Linked DNA regions of Homo sapiens: regions 1 and 2 are each reported to be linked to region 3. Evidence: microRNA targets listed by miRTarBase, many of them from high-throughput screens and not tested one by one. Region 3 holds a microRNA gene; each other region holds the end of a gene's coding sequence.
What was found. Region 3 holds the annotated microRNA hsa-miR-6888-3p (AUCUGUCUCGAUUGUUUCCAG, at 5,800-5,820, shown strand). A microRNA usually pairs through its seed, bases 2 to 8, with sites in the 3' UTR of a target mRNA and lowers its output. Matches are read on the target gene's strand: a 7mer-m8 pairs with bases 2 to 8, a 7mer-A1 pairs with bases 2 to 7 and ends in A, and an 8mer does both.

Region 1: the mRNA of BCAS4 is a reported target of hsa-miR-6888-3p. The part of its 3' UTR that is shown has no 7-base or 8-base seed match.
Region 2: miRTarBase lists CAMLG as a target of hsa-miR-6888-3p. Seed matches in the 3' UTR shown: 7mer-m8 at 7,496-7,502.

What each region holds. Positions count from the first base shown.
Region 1 is chr20:50,875,771-50,885,791 of GRCh38, reverse strand. It overlaps BCAS4 (breast carcinoma amplified sequence 4), which reads right to left. Exons shown (of 5, transcript NM_198799.4): 5 at 8,615-9,306. The coding sequence ends at 9,184. It overlaps LOC124904929 (a long non-coding RNA gene), which reads left to right and starts at 9,781. Exons shown (of 2, transcript XR_007067647.1): 1 at 9,781-10,021. RefSeq lists enhancers at 5,411-5,910, 5,911-6,412, 9,071-9,651.
Region 2 is chr5:134,748,666-134,759,200 of GRCh38, reverse strand. CAMLG (calcium modulating ligand) reads right to left here. Exons shown (of 4, transcript NM_001745.4): 4 at 7,044-8,442. The coding sequence ends at 8,251. DDX46 (DEAD-box helicase 46) reads right to left here and starts at 422. Exons shown (of 23, transcript NM_001300860.2): 1 at 246-422. The coding sequence starts at 262. RefSeq lists an enhancer at 158-647.
Region 3 is chr2:159,181,082-159,191,616 of GRCh38, forward strand. MIR6888 (microRNA 6888) reads left to right here and starts at 5,754; the gene lies at 5,754-5,820. TANC1 (tetratricopeptide repeat, ankyrin repeat and coiled-coil containing 1) reads left to right here. Exons shown (of 27, transcript NM_033394.3): 15 at 4,710-4,818; 16 at 5,821-5,943. RefSeq lists an enhancer at 4,521-4,690 and a cis regulatory region at 4,606.

The sequences.
Region 1 (10,021 bases), not on the chromosome of region 3:
CAGATGACCATAAAAGTGACTATGAAAGTAAATACAAGACAAACATTAGATTTTTGCTACCTGTTATCGCATGCTGAGGCTGCAAGCCTGAGACTTGCGCTATTAAAAAGGAAAATCCGGCCGGGTGTGGTAGCTCATGCCTGTAATGCCAGCACTTTGGGAGGCTGAGGCAGGTGGCTCACCTGAGGTCAAGAGTTCGAGACCAGCCTGACCAACATGGAGAAACCCCCATCTCTACTAAAAATACAAAAAACTTCAGCCGGGCATGGTGACACATGTCTGTAATCCCAGCTACTCAGGAGGCTGAGGCAGGAGAATCGCTTGAACCGGGGAGGCAGAGGTTGTGGTGAGCCAAGATCGTGTCATTGCACTCTAGCCTGGGCAACAAGAGCAAAATTCCGTCTCAAAAAAAAGGAAAATCAGAGCAGGGTCCCAGGTCCATAAGCACCAAAATGAGCCTCAGCCCAGACCCGCCTTATCCCAGGATGACTCTGCTACCTCTAGCATGCCGGATAGTGCTGAGCTAGGGGCTGACAGATGGGCTTCAAGCCCAGCCTGGGCTCTGGCTCCAAGAGCTGCTCAGGGAACTCTGCTTCCTTTAGCAGTGACTACTCACTTTGCTTTGCCCAACCTCAGACCCTTTTATATTAATTAGGACTCTCACTGGCAGGTAACGGGAAATCCAGCTCAGACGGTGCTTAATAAAGGTGACAAGGGGGCAACTGGCTGTGTCTGGGGAGGGCAAGCTGCTCAGGGACATCACCAAGGATTCAGGTTTTCTGTCTCCATCCTGCCACCCACAGGGACACTTCATCCTAGGCAGGCACCCCGGTATTCATAGGGTGCCTTCCACTTACCTAACCTGAGAGGTTTCCCCTTCATTCAGTATTAAGAAAGAATCCTGAATTCTAAGCCAACTGGACCATTCCAGAACATCCGACTAAGCTGATGGGCTTAGTCCAAAGCTACCTGGTCAGTCACTGAGCTAGCATTACCCTGGTTGGCTTAGACTAGTCAGGACCCATCTCTGAAGCTCGGGTGAAAGCAATTCAACCCAAAACCGGAAACCAATTCAAAACCAATTCCATGCTACACTCAGAAGGTGCAGAGCGATGCTGAGGACCCAGCACTTCAAAGGAAGCCTTGTGCCATATGAAAACCAGATAAAAGGTGCAATTGCTCCAACTCAGAAGACGAAGCAAGTTCTGAAAAATCTCTTGACTGGTATTCTTTGGAAGCAAGTGATTCCCAGCCCTGGCTACATACTGAAATCACCTGGGGGGGTTTAAAGACAGGTGATCTAAGTTTCCCCCTCCCCTGCTTGGAGATTCTGATGTAATTGGTTTGAGGTGTGGCCCAGCTGATTCCCAGACGGAACTGGTTTAAAGGGATGCGCAGTGAACGTGGGCTACAAGCTCCAGCCTTCCCTTGAATAGTATGTCTGCTCCAGGCAGTTTCCTTTGAGACCACTTATTCTTTTTCCCCGCCACTCAACAAACACCTGCTAGCAGCCTAAGAAGAACCTGTACACTCAGAGATGCAACCTGCATGTAGAAAACCATTTCAAGAGTGTAGACTTGCCCCAACATCTCCTCGGTTCATCCCGGCAACAAGGAGACCGTGGCCTAAGCTGGAATCCTTACCTTCTGGGTAGAGTCCCCACTGCAGCAGCACCAGGCTTGGGGATGCCAACAGAAGACCCGCTCCTCCAGGTCTCCTCCCTTTCATTCACCTCGGCCTGGCTCCTCCAGATGAAACTCCGCCCATTACGTCTAAAACGGAGCATCTCCGTGGAAGGCCCAGTGAGAAACCCCTCCTGGTTGAAGAGGCTGGCCTCGGGTGCTCATGCCTCACTGGTTTGGTTTTTAAGGGGAACCGTATGTTCATTCTGACCAAATATAATGCTTGTGTCCCCTGCAGTCCTCCCCTTAACTGCTTCTCCAAACCCAGCATCATGAGCAGTCCTTAAAGCACACTCTGCCAGAAGGCCCAGCAAAGACTGCAGAGGCCAGCCTCAGACCTGCTGCCCTCCACTCACTCCTACTGCTGCAAGCCTGAAATGCATCAAGCTGATTATCACCTGTAAGAATTTCCAGGCTTTTGAGCCCATAGCAAGCCCAGGGAACTCAGAGAGGAGATTCTGTGACAGCTGCTTGAAATTAGAACTACTTGCAACTCCTTCCAAAGATGTTTGCACTCTTCACCATAATGCAAAGTGGGATTTAGTGGGATTTTGCTTTAAGATGGAGAGGAAGGTTCCTGGAAACCTGTAGCTGCCTGAGTCAACTAAACATCTCCAAGGAGTTGGTAAACCCTGTAAGCAGACATTGTGGGGTACCTGTCTAGCTTCTAACCTTCCCAAGAACTCCCCTTTTTACCCCAAGAAGGAGAGTTTTTATCATAAGTAGGTGTTGGATTTTGTCAAATGCTTATTTTCTGCATCTATTGAGATGATCATGTGGTTTTTGTCCTTTATTAATATGGTGTGGTACACTGATCTTCAGATGTTAAACCAACCTTGCACTCCTGGAAGAAATCCTGCTTGGTTATGGCGTATAATCCTTTTTTATATGTTGCTGGATTCTGTTTCCTGATATTTTCTTGATTTTGCATTTGTATTCTTGTGGAATATTGGTGTAGCTTTCTTACAATGTCTGACCTGGTATCAGTCACCTCCCAAAGGAGAGCCCTGGACAGCACACACTTCTCTAGTGGGACCCCATGCCTCATCCTCAGGGAGTTTGGAATTGGGGTACAGAGGTGCTAGCTAGACTGCCAATTGCTTGAACTGCAGTGACCATCTAGCTGCCATCCTCCACCACATTAAGCTGAGACCGAGATGCATTTCTTCACACACTCCATATCCTTGGAATAAATTTCCCATTGTCTGAGTCTCTGGTTCTACGGATCTCAAATGCAAATGCCCACAGGGGCTAGGCAAGTGAAATAAATTAGTGAAATAATTTGAGTATAAGAAAAGCCTGGAGACCAGGACCCCCCCCTCCAAAGCAACTTGACTTTATGTAGCTCATTGTTTAAAATTAGAATATCTGGCACTAAAAACAGTGGGCTCACATTCTTAAGGCAACAAGCAAACAAACAGGAAATTCAGTTCTTTATATGCATTCTCCTAATTTTTAATTGGTGGCAACTGATTTTAACCATTTTTTTGAATAGGCAAACACCAAAATATCAAAACTTTTAAAGAACAGTGAAAAGGATACCTCTCACCCCAGATATCCACCATTCTCAAATTTGTGTTTATCCTTCCAGAGAATAGTAATGTCTTTTTCACATAGATAATAGCATACCACATATATTTTTCTGCATTTGGCTTTCATATCTTGGCGATGTTTCCACACCAATTCATAAAGAACTCTTAACCCATTTTTACAACATTATAGTATTCCATCATATGGTTGGGCTATAAAGGAATAAAACCCAGATCAATAATCACTTGGGTTCTTTCTAATCTTTTGCTGTCTCACTGTGCAGTGACTAACCTTGTACATTTATCTTTTCTTTCTTGTGTGTGTAAGCTGGATTCCTAGGGGTGGAATTACTGGGTCTGAGGACATTTCCCCCCGCAACCCCCCCTTTTTTTTTTAAGAGATTGGGTTTTGCTTTGTCATCCAGGCTGGAGTGCAGTGGCATGATCACGGCTTACTGCAGCCTCAACCTCCTGGGCTCACTCAAGCGATCCTGCTGCCGCAGCCTACTGAGTAGCTAGGACCATTTCTAATTTTGTTAGGTATGCCAATTGCCCCCCCATGAGAATGGTGTCCCACCATCAATGTACAAGAATATGTTTCTTCAAAATATCACCAGCAAGACCAGGCACAGTGGCTCAAGCCTGTAATTCCAGCACTTTAGGAGGCTGAGGCAGGTGGATCACTTGAGGCCAGGAGTTTGAGACCAGCCTGGCCAACATGGCAAAACCCCATCTTTACTAAAAACACAAAAATTAGCTGGGCATGGTGGTGCGCACCTGTAATCCCAGCTACTTGGGTGCCTGAGGTGGGAGGATCATTTGAGCCCAGGAGGCAGGGGTTGCAGTGAGCTGAGATCACACCACTGCACTCCAGCCTGGGCAACAGAGCAGACTCTGTCTCAAAAAAAAAAAAAAATTCAATAGTGTCATCAAAAATTTTAATCCTTGCCAGCCTGAAATGTGAAAAATCTCAGGGTATTTTTCCATACTTATTGGCATACATTAAGGTTGAGTATCTTTTCATGTTTTGCATTTTCTGTGAAACTCCTGTTCATAGCCTTTGCCTGTTTTGCTACTGTTTCCCTTTTTTGTAGGTGACATTTTTTAGGGAGATTATCCCTTTGTAGCATGAGATGCAAATATATTTTCCCAATTTGTCATCTATCTTTTGAATTTGCTTAGGATTTTGTTGTTTTGGGATTTTTTGGTTGAGTTTTCCGTTGGTTTTGCCATGCAGAAGTTTAAAAATTTTATATAATCAAATTGACCTCTTTTATGGCTTCTCGATTTTGTACACTTCGCCAATGTTTTTAACCTATTTCTTCAATAGATTCGTTTTATTTTACTTTCTAAGACAGGGTAACACTTTGTCACCCAGGCTGGAGTGCAGTGGCACAATCTCAGCTCACTGCAGCCTCAAGTTCCCTGGCTCGAGCAATCTTCCCACCTCCCACCAAGTAGCTGGGTCTATAGGCAAGCACCACCATGCCTGGCTAATTTTTCTATTTTTTACAGAGAAGGGGTTTTGCTATGTTGCCCATGCTGGTCTTGAACTCCTGAGCTCAAGCGATCCACCCACCTTGGCCTCCCAAAGTGGTAGGATTCAGGTGTGAGCCACTGCACCCGGCCAATAGATTCATTTTATACATTAAGCTCCTAATCGATTTACAATCCAGGTGTGCTGAGTGAGGTATGGAGCTCTATTTTTTCCAGAAGTTTACCCAATTGTCACAACATGAAAACATCTTAAAACAATTCAGGGCAAACCACACATTTCTGCCAATCAGATACAACCCCATGGGCTGCTACCTTGAAACCTCTTGCTTTGGTGAGCACGAAGTTCACATCCGCTGGGAAAGTGGGAAAGGGGGTTGACCGAAGAGCCTTGCTCTTGGGAAGAAATCTGCAGTGACCTTTCTACTGGTGTCCCTGTCCAACATCAGCCACAAAAGAAAAAGACTGGCAGGCCTCGGTGGCTCACGACTGTAATCCCAATACTTTGGGTGGCCAAGGTAGGAGGATCGCTTGAGCCCAGGAGGTTGAGACTAGCCTGGACAACATAGCAAAACCCCGTCTCTGTTTAAAAAAGAGAAAGATCAGATCACCCTTTCCTAGGCTGCAGTTACCCTTACCAAGGGGTTAGAGGCCATCAATAGTCAGCAACCGAGGACATCATTGACTGGACAATGGAAATGTCAGGCACTTTGCTTTAATGAGGACGCACATGAAGTCACCTGGCACAGGGACAGTGGAGCCGCTCAGAGGACTGAGGTTAGGGGTTGGTGATGGCAGGGCGCAGTGTCCCGGCCTTCCTTCTCCCCAGATGTTTCCAAGCGTCCCTTAAAGCTCATTGTTTGGCAGTGCAAATCCTAGGAACTTTGGAACGGCTACTTCCAGTTCACTTGTCACCTTTTCCCCATAGATTTCCTGTGCAACCTCACCCCTCCTAACAGGACAGGGAAACCCAGAGAGAGCAGCCTCCATTCTCCCATGACTTCTAACTCTGACACGTAAGGGCAGTCCCTGAGTCACTCGCTGTTCAGGCCCTCGGATGCCGCTGGTCAACTGAGAAACGCAGGACAATCAACCCTTTCCCCATCACAGCCCGGGCCCTGCAACAGCAGCCTCCCATTACTGAGAGCCCCTCGCCAGTGTGCCCAGCATGCACACAGCTCACCTCATGTCACCCTCACCACAACCCATCAGACCAGAGCCATCCTCATGTCTTACCGCAGGGGCAGCTGGACTCAGAGAGAGCAAGTGAAAAGCCCAGCTCACACAGCTAAGAGGCATGGGAGCGGACAGTGCTGCCAGGCAGGCTAACCTCAGGGCCATGCTCCTAGCGTGGGGCCTGTGGGTCCCTGCTTTAGGACACTCAACGTTGCTGCGGCTTAATCACATGGGATTTCCTTCCAACTCTCCCTGGCCCCTGTTTCAGGGGCTGGGAGGAGAAAGAAGCCTGGGAGTGCCCAACACTCAGCAGATACTCACCCTTCCGGAAATGAGTGTCCTCAACTGCTTGTCTAAAAAATTAACATTAGCTTTCTCCTTTTTCTTCTTTTTTGAGATAGGGTCTCGCTCTGTTGCCCAGGCTGGAGTGCAGTGGCACGATCTTGGCTTGCTGCAACCTCCACCTCCCAGATTCGAGCGATTCTCCTGCCTCAGCCTCCCGAGTAGGTGGGATTACAGGGGTGCACCACAGCACCTGGCTAATTTTTGTATTTTTAGTAGAGATGAGGTTTCACTATGTTGGCCAGGCTGGTCTCGAATTCCTGACCTCAAGTGATCTGCCCACCTTGGCCTCCCAAAGTGCTGGGATTACAGGCGTGAGCCACCTCACCCGGCCAACTTTCCATCCAACGTGTGCTCTCCCTGAGCACACTGGGGCATGCAGAGTGTCCAAGCTCCCTTCGATAAAAACAGTCCCAGCCAATACAACACAGCCATGGGAATGATCTACAGTGACACAGCAACAGTGACACCTCCCAAGGTAACATCAAGCCGGTGAGGCCAGAGACAAGAGATGACACACCGTAGGTACACATCCCGTGTGTCCTCTCTTTATACAGAGCACAGAAACAAGAAACTCCAGTCCATATGGTTAGATGTCAGTATGCTGTCAGCCTGGGGTGGGGGTGGGTATGGGCATGGACCAGAAGCGGGCATGAGGGGGCTGCTCAGTGCTGATAATGTTGGTTGCTCAGTCTGGTGAGGCTTAAATAGATACACTCAGTTTGTGAAAAATTTAGTGAACCACTTAGGCACCCCTTTCTGTAATATAAATTATACTTCAATAAAGGTTTGTGCCAACACTACATTTTGGGAGGCCGAAACAGGAGGGTCCCCTGAGCCCAGAAGTTCAAGACCAGCCTGAACAACATAGGGAGACCCTGTCTCTACAAAAAATAAAACAAATTTGAAAAGTTGCCAGGCATGGTGGTGCACATTTGTGGTCCCAGCTACTTGGGAGGCTGAGGCAGGAGGATCACTTGAGCCCAGGAGCTTGAGGTTTCAGGGAGCCATGATCACACCACTGCACTCCAGGCTGGGTGACAGGTGTCTCATTTAAAGAAAAAAAAAATTGTAAAAGTCACCTCAATAAAAAAATGCTGACCGGGCATGGTGGCTCACACCTGTAATCCCAGCACCTTGGGAGGCCAAAGTAGGAGGATCACCTGAGGTCAGGAGTTCGAGACCAGCCTGACCAACATGGCGAAACCCCGTCTCTACTAAAAATACAAAAATTAGCTGGGCGTGGTGGTGTGCTCCCGTAATCCCAGCTTCCTGGGAGGCTGAGGCAGGAAAATAGCTTGAACTCGGGAGGCGGAGGTTGCAGTGAGCTGAGATCATGCCACCGCACTACAGCCTGGGTGACAGAGTGAGACTCCATCTCGAAAAAAAAGAAAAGAGAATAAAAATGCTGACTTTTCCAGAAACAAGGGGTCTACCTATATCTCTGAATTCCAAAAATTGTCTAAACTATTTCCCTGCTTTTCTGTTTTTAATTTTTAAAAACATTTTTAGCCAAGATCTCACTTGGTTACCCAGGCTAGAGTGCAGTGGCACAATCATGGCTCACTGCAGCCTCAACCTCCCAGGCTCAAGCAATCCTCCCACCTCAGCCTCCCAAGTAGCTGGGACCACAGATGTGCACCAGCACGCCAGGCTAATTTTTGTATTTTTGGTAGAGATATGGTCTCATTATGTTGCCCAGGCTGGTCTCAAACTCCTGGGCGATCTGCCTGCCTCGGCCTCCCAAAGTGCTGGGATCACAGACATGAGCCGCTGCACCTGGCCTCTACTCTATCTTGCCAGATTCATTATTTTAGGCTTCCTTGAAAAACTTTTTTGGGGTGTGGGGGACAGGGTCTTGCTCTGTTGCACATGCTAGGGTGCAGTAGAACAATCACGGCTCACTGCAGTCTTGACCCTGTGCATAAGCGACCCTCCTGCCTCAGCCTCCCAAGATGCTGGGATTACAGGCATGAGTCACCTTGCCCAGGCAGATTATCTTGAAATTCTAATGCAGATTTACAGTTCAGTCCTGTATGTGCATAGGGGAATTATGTGTGTGTTCTTGGCTCTTCGAGGAATTCCAGAAATACCCATTGCAGGTTGAAGCCACAGTGAGAAATCCGGAGTGTTAGGACAATAGCAGGAAACTCATCTGCATGGGAAGAAATGTGGGTAAACAAGCCTTTGAAGACCCTGGGGGTCCTAATGACCTCTGCACTCTTGCTGGAAATCCAAAGGCCGGGACTACCCCTCCCTCAGCTGGAGCCTCATCAGCAGGTGCCCAGGATCAGGCCCTCGCAGGTGAGGCACAGGAGGAACCTTCTAGAAAACACTGCACAGGTGAAAAGGAAACTATCACTCCCCGTCATTCTCACACCAGACCAGGGCTGAGCTCTTGACACCTTTATTGGAAGGATCCTCAAGGCTGTGGGCACCGAGGTCTGGAGGCAACAGAAGCAGCATCCACCCACCCACCACAGTGGCAGAGCACACCCCGTGCAAAAACCCATCACAGAGAGAAGGACCATGGAGCCCCTGCAAAGCCATCATGGAGAGAAGGAAAGTCCCCACTGTCCATCAGCCCCGGCCAGGCCTGGTCCCTCAACCCCTGTAGAACCCCAAGCAGGCCGATGTGGGAGGCATCACCACACGTGGGTTCCAACTGCTTCTCCAAACCCTGTGGTCTCACATGAGGCAGGGAGGAAATTTGAAAATGGCAGCAGCCTGGGCACGGAGGCTCCTGCCCATAATCCCACCACTTTGGAAGGCCAAGGTGGGTGGATCACTTGAGCCCAGGAGTTTGAGATCAGTCTGGACAACATAGTGAGACCCCATCTCGACATTTTTTTAAATATTTTTAAAATATAAAATAAACAGCAATACAAAGAAAAAACCCCCAAGCTGCAGTGTGTACACAATGTCACTTTCCAGCGTTCCTGATGGGAAGACCACAAAGCTCACAAAGGCCGAGGGCAGGTGCGGGGGTGGTGCTGTGCTTCCCCGGCGTCCACAGGAAAATAGTCCTCCGTCCTATACAGTGTGGGCAGCTCGTACGTCACGGGCACCGGTGCAGGTGACTTCTGGAATGACAAGAAATGAAGCTCTATCAGCGATTTGGATCCACTTGTTCCATGACCCAGGAATTCCCGGTCTACAAGTTCATCCTGCAGGACTCACACATATGACCAAAGACTCTGAGCTCCTCTGACAGCACTGCCTGTGACAGCCAAAGCCGGCCACCCAAAGGGACCAAGGCATCCATGTCAGGCCCTCTCCACAATGGAATACTCTGTAGGCATCAAGAAGAGCCAGGCAGCCCAGGCGCAGTGGCTCATGACTGTAATCCCAGCACTTTGGGAGGCCAAGGCAGGCGGATCACTTGAGGTCAAGAGTTTGAGGCCAGCCTGGCCAACACAGTCAAAGCCTGTCTCTACTAAAAATACAGAAATTAGCCGGGCATGGTAGCGCGCACCTGTAATCCCAGCTACTTGGGAGGCGGAGGCAGGAGAATCACTTGAACCCGGGAGGCGGAGGTTGCAGCGAGCTGGGATTGTGCCACTGCACTCCACCTAGAAAACAGAGTGAGACAATGTCTCGGGGAAGAAAAAAGAAAAAGCCAGGCAGATCAATATGTTCTGGCAGAGGAGGACTAAGAAAGCAAGGTGAGAAGGGTAGACATGTGACAAAGGGACCTATACCGACACGTGACAGCTCTGCAGGGCCATCTCAGAGCCTGGGTACAGTGGCTGTGGTTGGTGGCATGACTGATTTTTTTTTTTCTTTTGAGACGGAGTC
Region 2 (10,535 bases), not on the chromosome of region 3:
TCCTGGAGGGTTGTTCCCGCTCCAGGGGCTCGAACCCTCTGATGGTAGTGCAGGGGAAGCCGTCGCTGGCCCAAACACAACCATTCCCTCAGCCGAGGTCCCCCAGCCCTTCCAATGCTCGCGGGGCAGCGCTGACCGCACGTGGGGCCGCGCCAGGCCTGGCCCGGCGGCCACCTCAACTCCCGCCTCTTCTCACGACCCCAAGAAGCCGCTCGCCCGCTAGCCCGCTCGGCGCTCTGCCTCACCGTGACTCCCGACCCATGCTGCCGACCGCGGGAATACTGGTGCCCTTGAGTACCACGCACAGGCGAACCGGACAAACAAGGAGGCTGAGCTGCCCTCAACGCCCGGCAAAGACCAGCGCTAAACACTAGCAGCACCTACAGCTGTGGCGGCCATCCCAGCGCGGCCAACGAAAACAGGACGTGCTGGCGCCGGCAGCCGAAGGAAGAGAAAAGCCGACCGGAAGCTGCCGCTCTTCCACAGCGCCCCACCTCGACTGGAGGACGCACAGCGCCGGCCCCATCGAAAGGTGATGCCTTCGCCCCGCCCAGTCTTCCCGGCGCCCGCACCACGCCCGGCTGATTAGTGCGATGGAGCGCAGCGCGTCAGCCTCGCCGGCCCGTGAGGGTGTTTCGCGCCAGAGCCAAAGAGGCGTCCTGGGCAGGCTGATGTCTGCCTTAATTTGCGCTAAATAATGCGGCAACTTTCTCCGTACACGCTCTTTATTCATGTATACATTCACTCATTTATTTATGTTGTCATATGCCAGGCTTGTGCTAGATCCTGGGGAGCTCACAGTCTATCCGGGAAACAGATGACTAAAGCCAGCACAGTGGCTCACGCCTGAAATCCCAGCACTTTGGGAGGCTGAGGCGGGAGGATCTATTGAGCCCAGGAATTCAAGACCTGGGCAACGTAGCCCTCGTCTCTGCAAAGAAAATAGTAATAATAATAGACTTGACTAAAAACACAAGCAGAAGTAATACAGCAAGGAGAGTCCACCATTGGAGACGGATTCAGAAAACACGTTTCCCTTGGAAGTGAACTCTGAGGTGAGATTTGAAGACCCGGTAGGTGTTAACCTAGTAGAGAACAAAGAGCTAAAAATACTTTGGCAAAAGATTAGTTCTCAACATTGCTTGCACTGGGAAGCTTAAAAATAAAACAAAAAAACAAAAAAAGGGCCAGCCATGGTGGCTCATGCCTATAATCCCAGCACTTTGGGAGGCCGAGGCAGGAGGATGGCTTGAGCCCAGGAATTCAAGACCTACCTGGGCAACATAGCGAGACCCTCTACAAAAAATAAGCAAAATAATTAGCCAGGTGTGCTGGCACGCCTGTGGTTCTAGCTACTTGGGAGGCTGAGGTGAGAGGATCATTTGAGCCAGGGAGGCTGAGGCAAGAAGATTACTTGAGCCCAGGAGTTTGAGGCTGCAGTGAGCTATGATGACTCCAGCCTGGGTAGCACAGAGAAATCTCATCTCTAAAATATTAGTAAATAAAATAGAAGCCTGGGTTCCACCCCTATGTTCTGATTTAATTGGCCTGGAGTGCTTCTTGTGCACTGGGAATTTTTAAGCTTCCCAGGTAATTCTGAAGTACAGTCAAGATTGAGAACATTATTCGAGAGTTTGGGCACCAAAAAAATGTATATGTATTGTCTCATGCAACACACACAGAAATGTTGAATTTTTTTTGTTTTTTTTTTTTGAGACGGAGTTTCGCTTTTGTTGCCCAGGCTGGAGTGCAATGGTGAGAGCTCAGCTCACCACAACCTCCACCTCCTGGGTTCAAGCGATTCTCCTGCCTCAGCCTCCCAAGTAGCTGGGATTACAGGCATGCACCACCACCCCAGCTTATTTTGTATTTTTAGTAGAGATGGGGTTTCTCCATGTTGGTCAGGCTGGTCTTGAACTCTCGACCTCAGGAGACCTGCCCGCCTCGGCCTCCCAAAGTGCTGGGATTACAGGCATGAGCCACCGTGCCCGGCCATGTTGAGTTGTTTTTGCAAAAAGCTATAATGGAGTTGGAGAAAGGCTCATATTTTTACTTTACTTGCCTCTGTACTATTTTACTTTCTTACACCTAAAGATGATGGAAAAGTTCTGTGTCTTGATTTTAGTGGTCATTGAATAGATTTGCACATTTTTCAAAATTCACTGAACTGTACCCTTTAACTGTACATGACTTATTGTATGTAAATTTTACCTCAACATAGTTGATTAAAGAAAAAAAGCAAACCAACGAGTGACACTCCAAGATGAGTTTATGCTCCCCACGCCCCCCGTGGCTTGCTGCCCACCTGTGGTAGCTGCGAGAAGCATTGAAGAGGGATAGAGACTGGAGGTTCTGGCAGTCCATGCCAAGGGTAAGAAGGCCTGAGCTAATTAATGAGTGACAGGATGGACACCAAGGAGGGTTAGGAATCCCCCTGTAAATTGTTTGGATGTGGGCTGCAGGTAGGGAATGTGGATTTCAACCTAAAAGACATAGAAAACCACCAGTGGCTTAAACAATGAAGACTGAGAAGTGATCAGATTCTGGGTGTATTCTGGAAGCAGCTCTCAAAGCGCCAATAGATAAACTGGATGTGAGCTATGACGGAAAGGAAGGAATAAAAGATGACTGCCAGGTTTTCAACAGAGCTATTGTGGACTGTGGTGAATTTGTGGAGATGAGAAAAGCATGGAAGCAACAGATTTAGTGGAGGAAATAGAGAAAGTCATTGAGTTTGTTTCAGTCATGTGATATTTGAGGTGCCTACTAGACATCCAGGAAATAACAGCTACAAATAGAGGCGGGAGAGATATGGGTCCTCAGCATTTTATAGAATGTATAATACACAGTATTTGAAGCCATGGACTGGATGAGGCCATGCAGAAGTGAATGGAAATAAGTCCTTAATTTTTGAAATTAACACAATTTGAATATTGCTTAGAATCACAGGATTAGGGCCAGATGCAGTGGCTCATGACTGTCATCCCAGCACTTTAGGAGGCTGAGGCGGGTGGATCACATGAGGGCAGGACTTCAAGGCCAGCCTTGCCAACATGGTGAAATTATGTCTCTACTAAAGATACAAAAATTAGCTGGGTGTGGTGGTGCGTGCTAATCCCAGCTACTCGGGAGGCTGAGGCATGAGAATCACTTGAAACCGGGAGACAGAGGTTGCAGTGAGCCAAGATCGCGCCACTGCACTCCAGCCTGTGCGACAGAGCGAGACTCTGTCTCAAAAAATAATAATAAAAAGAATCATGGGATTAATGTTATAGATTTTTAAAATCACAAACTCAAACTTCTTGATTTTAAGTAACAAAACTGAGACTCAGGAAACATATTTCATCCTAGATCACTAACCTTGTTGGAATCTAACCTGGAACTAGAGTCCAGAGATCTGACACTTAGGCCAGAGCTGTCTTCAAGATACTTTATTTCCAACTCCCCTTTAAGACAACACATTAACAAGACAATTCTAACTGGCTTAAATATTTCTTATATATATAATATATATTCTAATTAATATTACATTAATATAATATATATAGAATATATATTTTATATATATATATATATATATATATATATATATTTTTTTTTTTTTTTTTTTTTTTTTTGAGACAGGGCCTGGTTCTGTTGCCCAGGCTGGAGTGCAGTACTGTGATCTCGGCTCACTGCAGCCTCCTCCCAGGTTCAAGCGAATCTTGTGCCTCAACTTCCCAAGTAGCTAGTAGCTGGGACTACAGGCACACACCACCCCACCAGCTAACTTTTGTATTTTTCATAGAGAGGGTTTCGCCATGTTGCCCAAGCTGGTCTCAAACTCCTGGACTCCTGGTCTCAAGCGATCTGCCTCTCTTGGCCTCCCAAAGTGCTGGGATTACAGGTGTGCACCACCCCCACTCCACCACAATATATTTATAGTAAATTCACATCAAGTCTGTCCTGGAGGAAGGCTTTTTTTTTTCTTTTTTTAGAGACGGAGTTTCACTCTTGTTGCCCAGGCTGGAGTGCAATGGCGCGATCTCGACTCACTGCAACCTTGCCTCCTAGGTTCAAGCGATTCTCCTGCCTCAGCCTCCCAAATAGCTGGGATTACAGGCATGAGCCACCACTCCCAGCTAATTTTGTATTTTTAGTAGAGACGGGGTTTCTCCATGTTGGTCAGGCTGGTCGCGAACTCTCGATCTCAGGTGATCTGCTGCCTCGGCCTCCCAAAGTGCTGGGATTACAGGTGTGAGGCTGGAAGATTTTATCTATTTAGATAGGTGAAAGAAATGACTATAGTCTGTGTTCTAATACATCACTTTCAGTAAACTAACCTGTTTTCCAAAGCAGCAGATTTTGACTGTGACTTGACTTACTAACCCAGTATTGAATATCTAATAACCCACTTGCTGTTTTTAGTGCCAACTGTGATGACACATGTCCATTTACACAACTAATTGAACTAAAAAAACTACTAGGTTACATGGTCAAGATGTCACCTCTAAACAACCATCCTTGTCCCTCTAGTTTTAATCCATATACCTTTTTTTTTTTTTTTTGAGACAGAGTCTCACTCTGTTGTCCAGGCTGGAGTGCAGTGGCGCGATCTCAGTTCACTGCAACCTCTGCCTCCCGGGTTCAAGTGATTCTCATGCCTCAGCCTCTTGAGTAGCTGGGATTACAGACGCGCCCGCCACCACACCTGGCTAATTTTTTTTTGTTTTGGTTTGGTTTTTTTAGTAGAGACAGGGTTTCACCATGTTGGCCAGGCTGGTTTCAAACTCCTGACTTCAAGTGATCCACCCGCCTCGGCCTCCCAAAGTGCTGGCATTACAGGCATGAGTCATGGTGCCCAGCCAGTCCATATACATTTCAAAACCCAGAAATTTCCAAATAAAAAACGTTTTAAACTATTCCAAACACTAAGAAACTTCAATTCCCAGGCCAGGCGCAGTGGTTCTCGCTTGTAATCCCAGCACTTTGGGAGGCCAAGGTGGGTGGATCACATGAGGCCAGGAGTTCGAGACCAGCCTGGCCAACATGGTGAAACCTGTCTCTACTAAAAATACAAAAAATTAGCCAGATGTGGTGGCATGCATCTGTAATCCCAGCTACTCGGGAAGCTGAGGCATGAGAATCGCTTGAACCAGCCCGGGGGGCGGGCAGAGGCTGCAGTAAGCTGAGACTGACATCACTGCACTCCAGCCTGGGCGACAGAGACTCTGTTCTGAAAAAAACAAAACAAAAATTAGCCAGGGGTGGTGGCACATGCCTGTGGTCCCAGCTACTTGCAAGGCTGAGGTGGGAAGATTGCTTGGGCCTGGGAAAGCAAGGCTGCAGTGAGCCCTGATCATGCCACTGCACTCCGACAGGGGCAACATAGTGAGACCTTGTCTCAAAAAAAAGAAACTTTCAGGTCGGCTGCAGTGGCTCACACTTTTTTTTTTTTTTGAGACAGAGACTTGCTCTGTCGCCCAGGCTGGAGTGCAGTGGCACGATCTTGGCTCACTGCAAGCTCCGCCTCCCAGGTTCATGCCATTCTCCTGCCTCAGCCTCCCGAGTAGCTGGGACTACAGGTGCCTGCCACCATGCCTGGCTAATTTTTTGTATTTTTAGTAGAGACGGGGTTTCACCGTGTTAGCCAGGATGGTCTCGATCTCCTGACCTCATGATCTGCCCGCCTCGGCTTCCCAAAGTGCTGGAATTACAGGCGTGAGCCACCACGCCCGGCCTCACACTTTTAATCTCAGCAAATTGGGAGGCTGAGACAGGCAGATCACTTGAGGTCAGGAGTTTGAGACCTGCCTGGCCAACATGGTGAAACCGCCATCTCTACTAAAAATACAAAAATTAGCCAGGCATGGTGGCAATGCCTGTAATCCCAGCTACTCACTACTCAGGAGGCTGAGGCGTGAGCACTGCTTGAACCTGAGAGGCAGAGGTTGTACATCATGCCACTGCACTCCAGCCTGGGCAACAGAGTGAAACTGTCAAACAAAACACAACAAAACAGGCCGGGCGCAGTGGCTTACACCTGTAATCCCAGCACTTTGGGAGGCCGAGGCAGGTGGATCACCTGAGCTTTGGAGTTCCAGACCAGCCTGACCAACATGGAGAAACCCCGTCTCTACTAAAAATACAAAATTAGCTGGGCGTGGTAGTGCATGCCTATAAACTCAGCTACTCGGGAGGCTGAGGCAGGAGAATTGCTTGAACCCCAGAGGCAGAGGCTACAGTGAGCCGAGATTGTGCCATTGCACTCCAGCCTGGGCAACAAGAACGAAACTCTGTCTCAGAAAAAAAAAAAACAACACAAACAAACAAAAAAAACTTTCATTTCTACTTGATATTATTCAACAAATCAAGCAAATGATCAGGGAGATGCCTATCAGTTAAAGACAAAAAATGGCACCAATAGATACAGATATCTTATAACTGTCTTCAAAATATAAATTTGATAATGATCTACAATTACTAAAATTTTGCATGTGTCAGCTGGCTAAATGATTTTTTTTTTTTAAGAAAGAAAAGTAGGCCAGGCACAATGGCTCATACCTGTAATCCTAGCATTTTGGGAGGCCAAGGCAGGAGGACTGCTTGAGCCCAGTTTGAGACCAGCCTGGGTAACATGGTAAGATCCTGTCTCTACAAAAAATCAAAAAATTAGCCAGGCATTAATGGTCCCAGTTACTTGGGAGGCTGAGACAGGAGGATTGCTTGAGCCCAGGAGGTCAATCAAGGCTCCAGTGAGCCATGATTGTGCTACCACTACACTCCAGCCTGGACAACAGTGGTAAACACTGTTTGGAAAAAAAAAAAAGCACCAAAAGAGTAAACATGTGCAATGTGCAATTGAAGACCACTAGTATCTTCTCAGCGATTAAGGAAGTGACAACTTTAAGGATGATTTACAACCCTTTAGATACTAGATTCATTATGGAATCAGGAAAAATGTGTGCTTATAATCTTTCACCCAAATCAGAAGAATAGACTTAAATTATTCTTCATTACCCTGGTTCAAAATGAAATGACAGAAATCAAGACTTAAAGAGTAATTTTTTAAAAAGTGTATGTGTTTTTAATGTCACAAGGATTAACCAAATTAGACTATACAAAAATCTGTAAGGAAATGTAACACCAAGTGACATTAACACTTTAGTCTTATATTCTTTTAAGAAGACAACCCAACAAAATATGGCAGTTACTGAGTTAGTTAAAAGGATATTTATAAGGCCAGGTGCAGTGGCTCACGCCTGTAATCCCAGCACTTTGGGAGGCCGAGGTGGGCAGATCACCTGAGGTCAGAAGTTCGAGACCAGCCTGACCAACATGGAGAAACCCTGTCTTTACTAAAGAATATAAAAATTAGCTGGGCGTGGTGGTGCATGCCTGTAATCCCAGCTACTTGGGAGGCTGAGGCAGGAGAATCCCTTGAACCAGGAAGGTGGAGGTTGCGGTGAGCCGAGATGGCGCCATTGCACTCTAGCCTGGGCAACAAGAGCGAAACTCTGTCTCAAAAAAATAAAAACAATGTTTATAATAACTCATCTAGACCATATTTGGGGGGAAAAAGGACATTTATGCTATTGGGTTGCATGCCTCAATTCTTCACATCCCATTTTGTTTTTGCTTGCTTAAAACATACTTCTAAAAAGTGAAACTCAAATGTAAAAAGTTCCAATTCTGAGTTTGGTATACAGCAATAAAAATTTTATAAATACCTTCCAATTTCACATGTATGAATCTTTTCTTTGATTAAATACTTGTGCTGGAGTAAAAATTAAGATACTAACTCAACAAGAAAAGTTACAATGTGCAGAGTTAACATTAGACAATTCAGTTTCTTTCATTTTATTTTTCAGATGACTTCATTTCTCAGGACAGAATGACACAAACACAAGAAGCAGTCTCTAGGGCTGGCTGAGACCACATTTATCTGTTCTCCTAAAAGCACTAGCTCAGCTCCCAAAAGAAGAATTACAAATCTGAGAAGTTAGAGGAAAGGTACAGAATAGGAATTCTGATTAACAAGAAAAATCAATTAATGACATTGGTACTCTATTCTTCATATCAGTAATAATACAAACTCAGCCCTTTTAAATCAGAGAATCTGCCATTCTATATCTAATAAAGTAGCTTTACAACCCCTAAAGTAAAAGAATTACATGAAGGTGTAAACCAATTTGCCTCCTTTAGAGACACTGCAATATAGAAGAGGATTTTTTTTTTTTTGTAAGCTTCTCCTTCTCAGTTCTACAGGCTTCATGGTACTTCAGAGCCCCAATAATCAAGCAGTTCATGACAAAAGATAAAAGTGAAAAAGTAGACACAGAGATCTGTGAAGACTTCGCCCATTTTGCTATAGGTATCCATTGATCGATTTATCACTTCGGCAGGAATTCCCGACAATAGAAGTGCAGCTGTTAGTACTGTTGTCTTTATCTTCTTTTCACTCTGTGTAGAGAAAGACTCAAATTAATCTTCAAAGTTTCAGCAGGCTACATTAAGCTCTATACAAACATGATCAGTACTGCTGTTTTTAACCGAAATGATTTAAAAACTGTTAATGATGTTTCAAAACAATCAGTAAGATACCAACATTTACTGAGCATATAATATGTAACTCATCAATCTGCTAGGCAATAGCAGACATCAGTCTTGCTTTTTTTTTTTTTGAGATGGAGTCTCGCTCTGTTGCCCAGGTTGGAGTGCAATGGCACGATCTCGGCTCACTGCAACCTCTGCCTCCCGGGTTCAAGCGATTCTCCTGCCTCAGCCTCCTGAGTAGCCGGGATTACAGGTGCTTGCCACCATGCCCGGCTAATTTTTGTATTTTTAGTAGAGACAGGATTTCACCATGTTGGTCAGGCTGGTCTCAAACTCCTGATCTCGTGATCTGCCCGCCTCAGCCTCCCAAAGTGTCAGGATTACAGGTGTGAGCCACTGCACCTGGCCCAGTCTTGTTATTAGAAGTTTTTAAAAAGTGTTATCTTGGAAGTATGACATAAATAACAATTTATGATATATACAACAGTACAATATAAAAACAAGAAAAATATTACTAGACAGGACATAAATAACTGCTAAATGACTGACATGGATAATGTGTGACATAGGAGCTCACAGGAGATATAAATTACTCCAGTGTTTTATGTAAATAAAGCACAAGGAGGACTTCAGAGGAAGTAAAATTAAAAACAGGCCTTCAGGCCAAGTGCAGTGGCTCATGCCTCTAATCCCAGCACTTTGGGATGCCGAGGCTGGGTGATGGCTTGAGCCTAGGAGTTTAAGACCACTCTGGGCAACATAGGGAGACTCTGTCTCTACAACAAATACAAAAATTAGCTGAGCATGAGCCTGTAGTCCCATCTACTCAGGAGGCTGAGGTGGGAGGATCTCTTAAGAGGTTGAGGCTGCACTGAACTGAGACTGCACCACCGCACTCCAGCCCACATGACAAAGTGAGACCCCCGTCTCCAAAAACAACAACTAAAAACAGACCTTCAAAGAAGAGCAGGATTTAGACTGGCAGAAGTGAAAGTTTTTTGAAGCGTTAAGTCTCAGGACAAGTTAGAGGCAGAAGAATGCTTGGAGAACAATGAGTAATTTGTCACAGACTTATAGGAATGTAGGGCCCTAATTGTTATGCAAAGGAATCCACACTTGATTACACATCCAATAGGGTATCACTGAACAATTCAGTATACTTCTGGTGGAAGAGAGAACATTTACTTATTAATTTTCTAGTCTCATTTTTTTAAGAGATTAAAAGCTGAATTTTTCTTTATTATCACAAAATCCAATCATACGGTTTAAAATATTTTTAAATATAAAAACCTATAGTTGGCCGGGTGCAGCGGCTCATGCCTGTAATCCCAGCACTTTGGGAGGTCGAGGTGGGTGGATCACAAGGTCAGGAGTTCGAGACCAGCCTGGCCAATATGGTGAAACCTCGTCTCTACTAAAAATACAAAAAAATTAGCCAGGCGTGGTGGCACATGCCTGTAATCCAAGCTACTTGGGAGCCTGAGGCAGGAGAATTGCTTGAATCTGGGAGGCAGAGGCTGCAGTGAGCCGAGATCGTGCCACTGCACTCCAGCCTGGGTGACAGAGCAAAGCTCCATCTGAAAAAAAAAAAAAACCCTATAGTTACCTAAAAGAAATGAAAGCTTATGCTCACAAAAAGCCTCATACAAGAAAGCTCTTAGTTTTAGTCATAATAACCCCAAAACTGAAAACAACCAGGATGTCCATCTATAGGAGACTAGATAAATGGATATAGTCATACAATGTAGTATTACTGAGCCAAGAAAAAAAAAGGAATTAACTACTGATTTATCCAACAACATGGATAAATCTCAAAAATATCATGCGGAATAAAGAAGGCTTGCACAAAAAAGTAAAATCAAGAATGATCCCACTTACATGGATTACTATGCCAGACACAACTAATCTATCGTGGGAAAAAGTTCTTTGGGGTATAGGGACTGGGACTGCCTGGAAAGGAGCATGAAAGAAACTCCTGGGGTGACAGTGAAGTTATAAAC
Region 3 (10,535 bases):
TCATTTTTTATTTCTGCCTCTTTCTGTAGCATTTTAAATGATATACCAATCTTCTTTTTCTCTTGGAATTCTTATCTGGGTTTTTGCTTAACACATCACGGGCACCTTACTAAGCTGTTAGAAGTCTTAGAAAAGTGTCATTTTCATTTTTCATGGTTGTGCAAAACTCCTAGGAGGCAAATTATTATGTACTTCACTATACCCTCATTGGATTTTTTTGCTTTTTTTTTTTTTCAGACGGAGTCTCGCTGTCGCCCAGGCTAGAGTGCAGTGGTGTGATCTCAGCTCACTGCAGGCTCCGCCCCCTGGGGTTCACACCATTCTCCTGCCTCAGCCTTCCCACGTAGCTGGGACTACAGGCGCCCGCCACCTCATCCGGCTAACTTTTTGTATTTTTAGTAGAGACGGGGTTTCACCGTGTTAGCCAGGATGGTCTCAATCTCCTGACCTCGTGATCCGCCCGCCTCGGCCTCCCAGAGTGCTGGGATTACAGGCGTGAGCCACTGCGCCCGGCCCCCTCGTTAGATTTTTAAGTTGTTTCTAAATTACTTACAAACAGAACAACCTGTCATGTCTTGGTGCCTTGCAGGTCTGGATTCAAATCTTCCATTGATTCTTGTATATTTTTCTCTGCATGAAATATATTTTAATTCTCCATGCCTTCCTTCCTTATCTATAAAAAATGAGTGTCTTCTCACTGAGTGCTGGTAGCTATTAAATCAGATCTTAAGACGATGTACTACCTCTCTTCTTTCCTTTCTTCTCTCTTAGTTTTGATTATGCCCTAGGTTAGCATTCCAGAAATAGAATTATGAAGATAAAGAATAGTTTGAGTCTGGCCGGGTGCGGTGGCTTACGTGCGTAATCCTAGCACTTTGGGAGGCAGAGATGGGTGGATCACCTGAGGTCAGGGGTTCGAGACCAGCCTGGCCAACATGGTGAACCCAGTCTCTACTAAAAATACAAAAAAAAGAAAAATTAGCCGGGTGTGGTGGCAAGCACCTGTAATCCCAGCTGCTTGGGAGGCTGAGGTAGGAGAATTGCTTGAACCCAGGAGGCGAAGGTTGCAGTGAGTCGAGATCGTGCCACTACACTCCAGCCTGGGCAACAAGAACAAAACTGTCTCAAAAAAAAAGAAAGAGTTTTCATTCATATCACCTAGACTTAAACATATTTACATTTTGCAATATTTGCTACATCTGTTTCCTTTTTTTTTGTTGAAGTATGTTAAATTGTAAACATGACATTTTACTTTAAATAACTGAATATTCATCTTAGAGATATTTTCATACTTAACCACGCTATTACTGCACCTAAAATATTAATGCAAATTCTTAATAATCTTAAACATTTAGCCATGCTCAAATTTCTATTTTTTAGTATGTTCACATCAGGATCCAAAAAGTCCATAAAATGCATTCGATTATCTCTCTTAATCTATAGTTTCTCTCCTCATCTTTTTTTCTTTTTCCTCAAAATTTATTTGTTTAAAAAGGGCAGCTGGGTAGTTCATCCTGTATAGTTTCCCATCATCTGAATTTTGTGTCCTCATGTTTTTTCATGTGTTCCTCTCACCCCTATTTCCTATAAATTGGTAGTGAAGTTTAGAGGCTTGTTCAGATTCTATATTTTTAAACAAGGACACTTAGTAGGTGGTGGTGAGTACCTCTCTCAGGAGGCGCATGACATTGTCATGTCTCTGTAGGCACTAGAAGCCACTGATGACCATTTTTAAGATCCATCAGTTTTTTGGGGTTGCACAGGAAGTCTCATCTGGAACAGTCCCCTATTAGCTCTGTTCTCTGTTAACTCGAGGAGTTAATAGGTATTAGTAGGTAGAACAAGGCTGTTGCAGACAGGAGGAGCTATTGAAGACGTCGCATCAGAATGAGCAGGCCGTGTTCTGCAACAGCAAATCTAGTTTGACTTGACCTTTTTTCATGGAACAGAGGAGAGGAAAGAGCTGGCAGAAGGGAGTGTGCAGGGCACAGAGTGTATAGGGCCTACTATAGCAGTCAGGAGTGGGGACTTGGGGGGACTGGGGTTAGAGACGGGCCTTGCTGACATGAGGTAGCTCTTGTGGCTTGGCCTCATGGGCAGAGTAGAGGAAGAAGAGCCAGAAACTAGGTGTGGCATTGCTCTTGGGAAGGGTAAGAAAGGCAGGTGGTATGTGGCAGGCTTTGCAGGGACAGAGCTGGTTTTAGTTTTCAGCAGTTGAGATTGCAAGATAGCCGTCTGTCCCAGGCAGACAGGTTCCAGCGCCAGGGCGGGTCGGCAGGTTGGAGGAGAAGCTGACAGTTGAAGATCTAGCATCACTGATGGAGAGGTGTCTGGCATGACTCGGTGAGGAAGCTCATGTCATTAGAGAAAAGATAGCACTGGGCTTCCAGGGCGTGGAGGAGGGTTTCAGGGAGGGACCTTACGGATGTAAGTGTTGCCAAGAGGTGAAGGGAAATGACGGTTAAGAGGAAGCCATTGGATTTTCAGTGAGGGAGGAGGGTCCTGGATCCTTAGGAGACTCCGCCTGTTGGGTTGAGAGGAGAGAGAGGAGGGAGCCAGCGTCTTGGGATGGGAGGTGGAAGGGCTTAGGGGGCGGGTGGTTTTGTTTGTTTGTTTGTTTTTTAATAACACAGGAGATTGGAACATTGTCAGAAACATCACTGAGAGATAGTGTGGAGAAAGATCCATAAAGAAGGAGAAATTGGGAATGTAAGGAGGAGGGACCGGGGCCTGAGTGACGGGGCAGGTTGCCTCCTCTTTGTTCCCGTGGAATCTGTTCACAGCACCCAGTTAACTGACTTGCATATCGTTTGCGTGTCCCCTCCCATTGCTTAGAGCTTCTCAATGGAAGCACCTTGCATTGTTCCCCCATAGAATCCCCCCGTCAGACGTGGTGCCAGTGATAAGGTGTAGCTGTGAATGAATGGAGGACTCAAGCTCCGCAGGTTAAGAGCACAGGCTCTCCTGTCTGACCAACTTTAGTTCAAATCTCTGTTCTGTCATCTAGCCATGTGGTCTTGCATAAGTCGCTTAACCTGTTCAGGCCTCTGTTTCTTCATATAAGCATATGGGGGTCATAGTACTTAGTCACAGGATTGTGCAGGTAAATGAGATAATTCAATTAGGTTTCTGCATCTGGCATAGAGTAAGAGCTTGATACCTGGAAGCTTTGGAAATTAACAGAATCATGAATGCAGATTGTCTTAGAAGGGGATTGCTTGGTCTCAAGAACAGGAGGGCAGGGAGGAACTATGGGCAGGGTATGCAGGAGTATAGGTGGGGAGCAGTGGCATGGGGAGTTGTCTCCTCAGAGAGGTGGGATGCCCTGTGCTCAGCTGGGAGCACTGGAAACTTTAGGCCCGGCCACCAAGGGGTGTGTGGTCATCACCCTGTAAAGTGATAGTTAGTGTGTCTTTGTGATGGACACGGTTGGCCTGGCCACAGAGCTCAGCCAACTGGGAGACTTAGGAGGACTTAGCCTGTGGTTGGGAGAGTGGCTCCCAACTGACATGAACTGGGCCAGAATGAATCCTGGGATCAGCCCATGGGTAGGACCTGGGGAGGCCTTGGGGGCCTAGAGCACTAGAGAGATGCTGACAGCGGTTTCCATGGGAATAAGGGAGGAGGGGAATCCCAGGCTCAAGATCTGGGACATGGAAGGTGTTCAGGGAATGACAGGGCATGTGCTCGTGGGAAAACTTCAGGCCATTACAAGACAATGGACGAGACTCAGTGGGCAGTGTGGCCTTAAACGTCATGCCCTCCCCTGTAGTATAAAAACTGATTCCTTGGCCTCCATCTGCCTTGATTTCCTCATCTCTAACACGGTTTATAACCTATTTGAGAAGCAGGCATGCACCTGGAAAGACAAATGCAGTTTAAATAATGCATGCTTTTAATCATCTAGATTAGCAACTACTAGGAGGATGCGTTTTAAAACATATATAATGTTTATCTTTTCCTCCCTCCACAACTACCTGCTTTTCCCCAACCAAACAGCTCAAAGTTGACAGGATGATAGAAATGAAAGTAATTTACATTGCATAGAAGTCACTCCTATTGGAATAAGCAACTCTGTGTGTCATTTAGAAACTAATTGGCTCAAAGGCATGGGATCCACAGGAAGACAGAGTGAGTCCTATGGACATGGAGGGCAAATGGGCAGGATGGCCCTTTCACAAAAGGGAAATGGGCAGGAAAATAGGCAGGATGGTACCTTCACAAAAGGGAAATGGGTGCTGTTGGCTGGATGTCCACCATGTGCCAGCCACAGCAAACCCACTTAGATGCCTTAGCCTTCTTCTCACCACAAGGACTTGTGTGCCATCCAAGCCTAGAATTCTCTGCTTTCTTGATCATGAGCTGTCACCTAGCACGGCCTGGCTTTTCTCTCCTTCCCACGTGAGACCTTGTCCTTTGTCTACCCCTAGTGGTGGTGATCCTGAGGGGACCTGAAGGCTAGGCCCAGGGATGGTTCTGTGCTCTGTGTCTATTCATGCATGCATTCCAGAAACACATTTGAGTGTTCACCAAGTGCTCAGCACTTTGCTAGGCATTATGACTCAGATGAGACCCTTAGCCTCCCGGAGTTTACATCTTTGTCACGGGCATAAATCAGTGACTAAGGCAATGGGTGGTGAATTGAGGGTGGGTCTGCGGTGTGGTGGAATGGGCTCTTCTGCTGTGAGCCTTTGTATTCCTTCCCCTAGGAACGGGCACGCGCTCTTGGCATTCATGTTCTCGCGTCAGGAGGGCAAGTTGAACCGCCAGCAGACCATGGAGCTTGGCCACCACATCCTGAAGGCGCACATTTTCAAGGTGAGATGCACACCAACTTGGGGAAGGGTTTCTTTGTTGTCATTTTGAGGTTTTGCTTTGGAGATTTTAGACAGCTCTGTCAGCCATCCAAGAAACGCTCCATGCACCTCAGCCCAAATGCAACCTCCTCCTGCCTCCCCTCTCCAAAAGTAACCGCTGTTCTGACTCAGCCTGGGCATTTCCTTGCATTTTGCTATAGTTGATTGCTCAAGTGTATATCAGAGTGCTGTGCTTAAGTTTTACTTCTTTCCACCTTTAAATCTCTGATAAGTTTCTTTTTATCTAAAGGTTCCACTTTGTTCATTACTTTTTGTTTCCTTATTATTGATTTGTTCGAGAACCTGAGTTTCTTGACCTGTGTGATTTTGTACCACCTGGACTTTCTGACTGTGTTTGCCCAGGCTGGAGAGCAGTGGTGGGATCATAGCTTACTGGACTCAAGCCATCCTCCCGCCTCAGCCTCCCAAGTAACTGGGACTATAGGCACGCTCCACCTTGCAGGGCTCAGATGGTGATATTCTAATTCTGTCATTTATTCTTCCTCTAATTTACTTCCAACATGGTAAAACCTTGTCTCTACTAAAAATACAAAAATTAGCTGGGAGTGGTGGCATGTATCTGTAATCCCAGGTACTTGAGAGGCTGAGGGATGAGAATCACTTGAGCCTGGGAGGTGGAGGTTGAAGTGAGTTGAGATTGCACCACTGCACTTCCAGCCTGGGCGACACAGCAAGACTCTGACTCAAAGAGAAACTCTCATCTGCCATCTCTCTCCCAAGGCACAAAGTTAACCTAGTGAAGGCAGGCTGGTTCCTTGACCCTTGGTTTCAGGTAGTGAAAGCTCGCATGTCCAGGCATTCTTTGTGTGTGACCCCGTGCCTTCTGCAGGTATCTGCACCCTCTGCGGCAGACCCACTTTCAGAGTGACCCTGCAGGTGGGAAGGAGATGCTCAGGCAGATCTGTCTCTGATTGTTTCCAAGATCTGTCTCGATTGTTTCCAGGGCCTCAGTAAGAAGACGGGAATTTCTTCAAGCCATCTCCAAGCCCTGTGGATCGGCTACAGCACCGAGGGGCTGTCCGCCGCCCTGGCCTCTCTCAGGAATCTCTATACTCCCAACGTGAAGGTGAGCAACCTTCTGCACAGAGAGCCGGAGACCCAGCCCTGGCCGGCTGCTGGCCGTTCCTCCAACAGCCCTGTTTCCCTCTGCCCTGGGTGGTGGTGAGAGGACGCAGAGGAGCTTCTAAAGATGTGCTTCCCTGATCACACGGGCTTGGGTGCTGTATTACTCGTTCTTCCAGAAGTTTAGCTTTTCTTTGGCAGGAAGATGTGGGTGGTCAGGGCTGCTCTGAGCACATGTGGTGACTGTTTCACAGCAGATGTGATAAGGAAGCAATTTACAAAAGAAATCAAAGATCAGAGAGATTTCTAGGGAAAACGGATTTTTTAAGTGTCCTGCGTTACTAATCTGGACCATCTCTTCAGAGTTCATGGGAAATTAAGCATGGATGGGTGATGCATAGAGATAAGTACACAGAAAAACAAACATCGAGGTTTCATGTATCCATATTTCTGCCTATGGAAAGGGTATCAGCATGGCCTTCTGTGGAGCCAAGAGCTTCTTCACTTCTTGGTCAGTGGCTTTCATGTCATGATGTTCCACTCAGCTTTTTAAGGTAGATTTTTCTTCCTGATTTCATGTAGCCTGGGAATCTGAAGCACACAGAGGCCAAGCAGCCTGTTAAGGCCACAGAGACAGTGTCCAGGCCTTTCAGCTTCAGGCCCTGATGTACCCGGCTGCCTGTGGAAGCCCTGGGTCAGTTTAGGGAGCCAGGTCTTCCCCCCGAATCACTCACATTGTTTCATCTTTCATTTCAGCTAAGAGTGTATCTCTCGGCTTCTCCATAACTAATAAAATTCTATAATCATAAGAAAGATGAGAATAAAAATGGCAATATGTTTTCATATGTTAATGAATTTCTGGGCATAGAATTTATTTTAATATGGAAATAAGTAAATGGGAAACATCTGTTGAGTACAAGTTTTTAAGACAGTAAATTTAAAGGTACTGCATAATAGTGTAATGAGCATGGCCCTCCTGAGATTATAAACTTTGCTCTTTAACGTATGTGCGATTTTAAGAGTTAATCATTTTTACTTTGTTTTGTAAAACTCCAGTGTCACCTACATCTACACCATCTCCGAAATTATTTCTATAATGTGGTTATAGAATCTTAAGTCTTTTCATTATCCTTCTGTTTCTTTTATCTTTCAAGGGGGGAAAACGGTTTTCACAGGATCTTGAACAAATTACAGTAATTTTAAATTATGCATGCAATTAAGGAACTTTTTTTAGAGTGTATTAAATGTTGTCATACAGGAATGAATGTCATTTTGAACAATAATTGCAGTTTGCCACTTTGGTAAATTAAAGTGACTTGCTCTGGGATGATTACTTGGTAGATGGATTTTAGTTGCAGTGGCATGCCAGCAGTCTCTAACCATGTTGTCTCCTGTGGCCAGGCCAGGATGGGGCCAGCCTGGGCCCCGCTGGCCCACTGGAGTCCCATCCAGCCAGTGGTTTTGTTGTACCATCTCATAGGACTGGTGGCCAGCCGCAAGCTGTGGCCTCAGGAGGATTTAGGTTGCAGTTCTTTTCTCAGCTGACAACAGAAAGGAGAGGAGAACAGGAGCTAGGTGTGGCCTTTGGCCCAACTTCCCTTGGCCGGGAGATCCAGTCATATCCTACATCATAGTCAGGAAGGACACATTTTAAAACAATTGTGCTTGTGTGAGCTTCCAGTGTACTTAGTGGGAATGCTGATGCTGCCCTATGGCCACCCTGGCCAAGCCTCTTCTGGTCCTCATGATCGTATTGCCTCGCATATCCCCAGCTCCCTTCCTGTTTTCCTGTTTTCATTAAATCCAGAAGTTGAGAGATACCACCACTTCTGAGTGTTGTCCAAGGAGGGCTTCTGTGATCATGGTCGGAAAATTTCCATATCGTTGGGGGAAAATCTATAGGATGAATCATTTAAACAGGTTCCTTCAGCACAGTGCCGTCTCAGCCAAGACTGCTGCTCTGCCACCTGGCTGCTCTGTGACCATCATTAGCTTTGTGCTTAGCGCTCAGCTCGGCCTTACTCCCTCTGAGCCTTGGCTTTCTCACCTATAAAGTGGAGACACAAAAGAGGCTGTCTCTCAAGTGATGAGAAACCTTACTGAGATGTTAAAGGTACTGGGAACATACTTGGCATTTATTATGTTTACATGAATTGTTGTTAGTGCTTTGCCTCATCTCTGGAAACAGTGGCTCTGCTGTAGGCACCTGGGAAGTTTTGGATGTGCCAGTTGGTGCTTGTTAACAGGAGCTGCCGACCTTGAGGATGTGATGGTTGCAGGTGACTTACCTCTGCCCTCATCTCGGCATGAGGTGTCCCTGCTGCTCTGTGCTGGTGAACAGCCCAGGCTGGGCATGCAGGGTGATGTGGACAGGAGGGCAGAGCTCCCTCCTGTGCCTTCCAGAGGTCAGGGACCTGAGTTCTTGTCGTTTCTGAAGACTCCATGAAAGGTTGATTATAACATCGATTAATGTTTATTTAACATGTACAGATGCTGAGTGCTGTGCTAAATGCTTAATGCACATATATATACATACACTTTTTTTTTTACACATTGATTTTTAATCTTTACAACCACCAAGTGAAGTGAAACTTTTATCCTCATTTTTTTAGATGAGAAAACTGAGGTTTAGGGCAGTTGATACTTTCCAAAATCACACAGCTGGAAGGGCGCCTGACACTCAGCAAGCCCTTGCTCTGCAGGTGCCTTTATCACTTGATGTGTTTACAGCCCTGGCTGCCAGCTAAAATCACCTGGGAGCTCTGGGCACCACAGCCCCAGCCCCAGTTAAGTCAGAATCTCCAAGAGTGGGGCCAGGGTATTGGAAACTTTCAAGCTCCCAGGTGGTTTCAGTGTGCATCAAGGTTAAGAACCATAGTTTAGGGGAAGGTGATGGAGGGTTAAGTGGTAAAAATACGTACAGCATTACACCGACAAAGGAAAATGTTATTCCCAGAAGCAGAGGAAGTGTGAATTGATGACATCTTTAGGAAACCTCTGCCCTGAGCACATGCCTTCCAGGTAAACTCTTGTAAGGGATTCATCATGGTACTCCAAGTATACCTTCCACCATTATTAGCAAAAGAGTACCTGTTAGATAGAATGGGATGGCATGCTGCTGTTTTCTTAGGTGGCACCTAAAGCACAGAGAGGTTGAGGAATTTTCTGAAAATCACACAGTAGGTTAGTTTGGGGGCTGGCTGAGAACTCACACCACTTAATCCTTCATTTTTTAGGCCCATGGATCTCAAGAAGGTATGGGGTTGATGGGGGAGGACAGAATGTAACTGGCTGGCAAAATTATCCAGGGAATTTACAAATGATCCTGCCCATCCTGTGGCTAGCAGAGTCTGGTGTGCCCCTTGGTGGCATTGCGTGTATTTCCAGATGTGTATCTTCTCTACTCCTCTTGCTGAGGACTGGTTTCATTGGCCTTAATAAAATCCTATTTCTTCAGCATAATCTGATTCTGTCCACGCTGTTACTCAAAGGGATTTTTAAAACACTTTTATTATTTTATTTTTATTTTTATTTATTATTATTATTTTGAGATGGAGTTTTGCTCTTGTTGCCCAGGCTGGAGTGCAATGGCGTGATCTTGGCTCACTGCAACCTCCGCCTCCTGGGTTCAAGTGATTCTCCTGCCTCAGCCTCCCGAGTAGCCGGGATTACAGGCGTGTGCCACCGCAACCAGCTAATTTTTGTATTTTTAGTAGAGACTCAGTTTCACCATATTGGCCAGGCTGGTCTCAAACTCCTGACCTCAGGTGATCCACCCACCTCGGCCTCCCAAAGTGTTGGGATTACAGGCGTGAGCCACCATGCCCAGCCACACCTTTATTAATGTTGTAGCATAATGCAGTCTTAAAATGCTTTTGAATTAGATCAGAGTCTGGTGGCATTTTTAAAAAGCAAGCCTATATAGATCTGTAGAGCAGGCTTGGTGGGGATTAATTAAGTCATTTGCCTGAAGTTGCCCATGAAACAGCAGTGTTAGGACTGGACACCCTTTCTGATCTCTCATCCATTCCTCCACAAGTACAAGTTGACAGCGAGACCCTAGAGGCTGGGTTGGTGTTCACCTGGATCTGGCTAGACAGTGGTCTCTCTGATGGTGTAGACAGCGGGGTGGTGGTCAGGTGGTTGGCTGGCTCCTTGTCACTTGCACATGGCCTGTTCTTCCTTAAATGTAGATGGCAGTCCCAGCAGTGTGAAGAAACTGATGTGTGGGTCATCCCCATCCATGGAGGGGCTCTGTTTGCCTTTCTTCTCTGTGAACTTCTGTATCGTAGAACCAGTGTCTGGTGCAGTGGACTAAGCAGGAAAACAGAGCATGCTGAGGGATAGAGAGGGCCTGGGTGCACAGGGTACCCTCTCCCCCATGTCCTGGCACTGGAGCAGAGCCCTGCAGGAAGTGATTATATTTATGGAATGAGCATTCCAGTCAGGGAACTAAAAGGGGGTAAAGACCATGAGGCCGGCCCTGCTTGGCATTGTCACAGCACGTGTTGGGTCCAAGGTGGCTGCAGTGAGGGAAGGATTCTGCAGAGAAGATCAGAGAGGAAGCTGGAGGCCTGTATCACAGAGGTTCAAGCT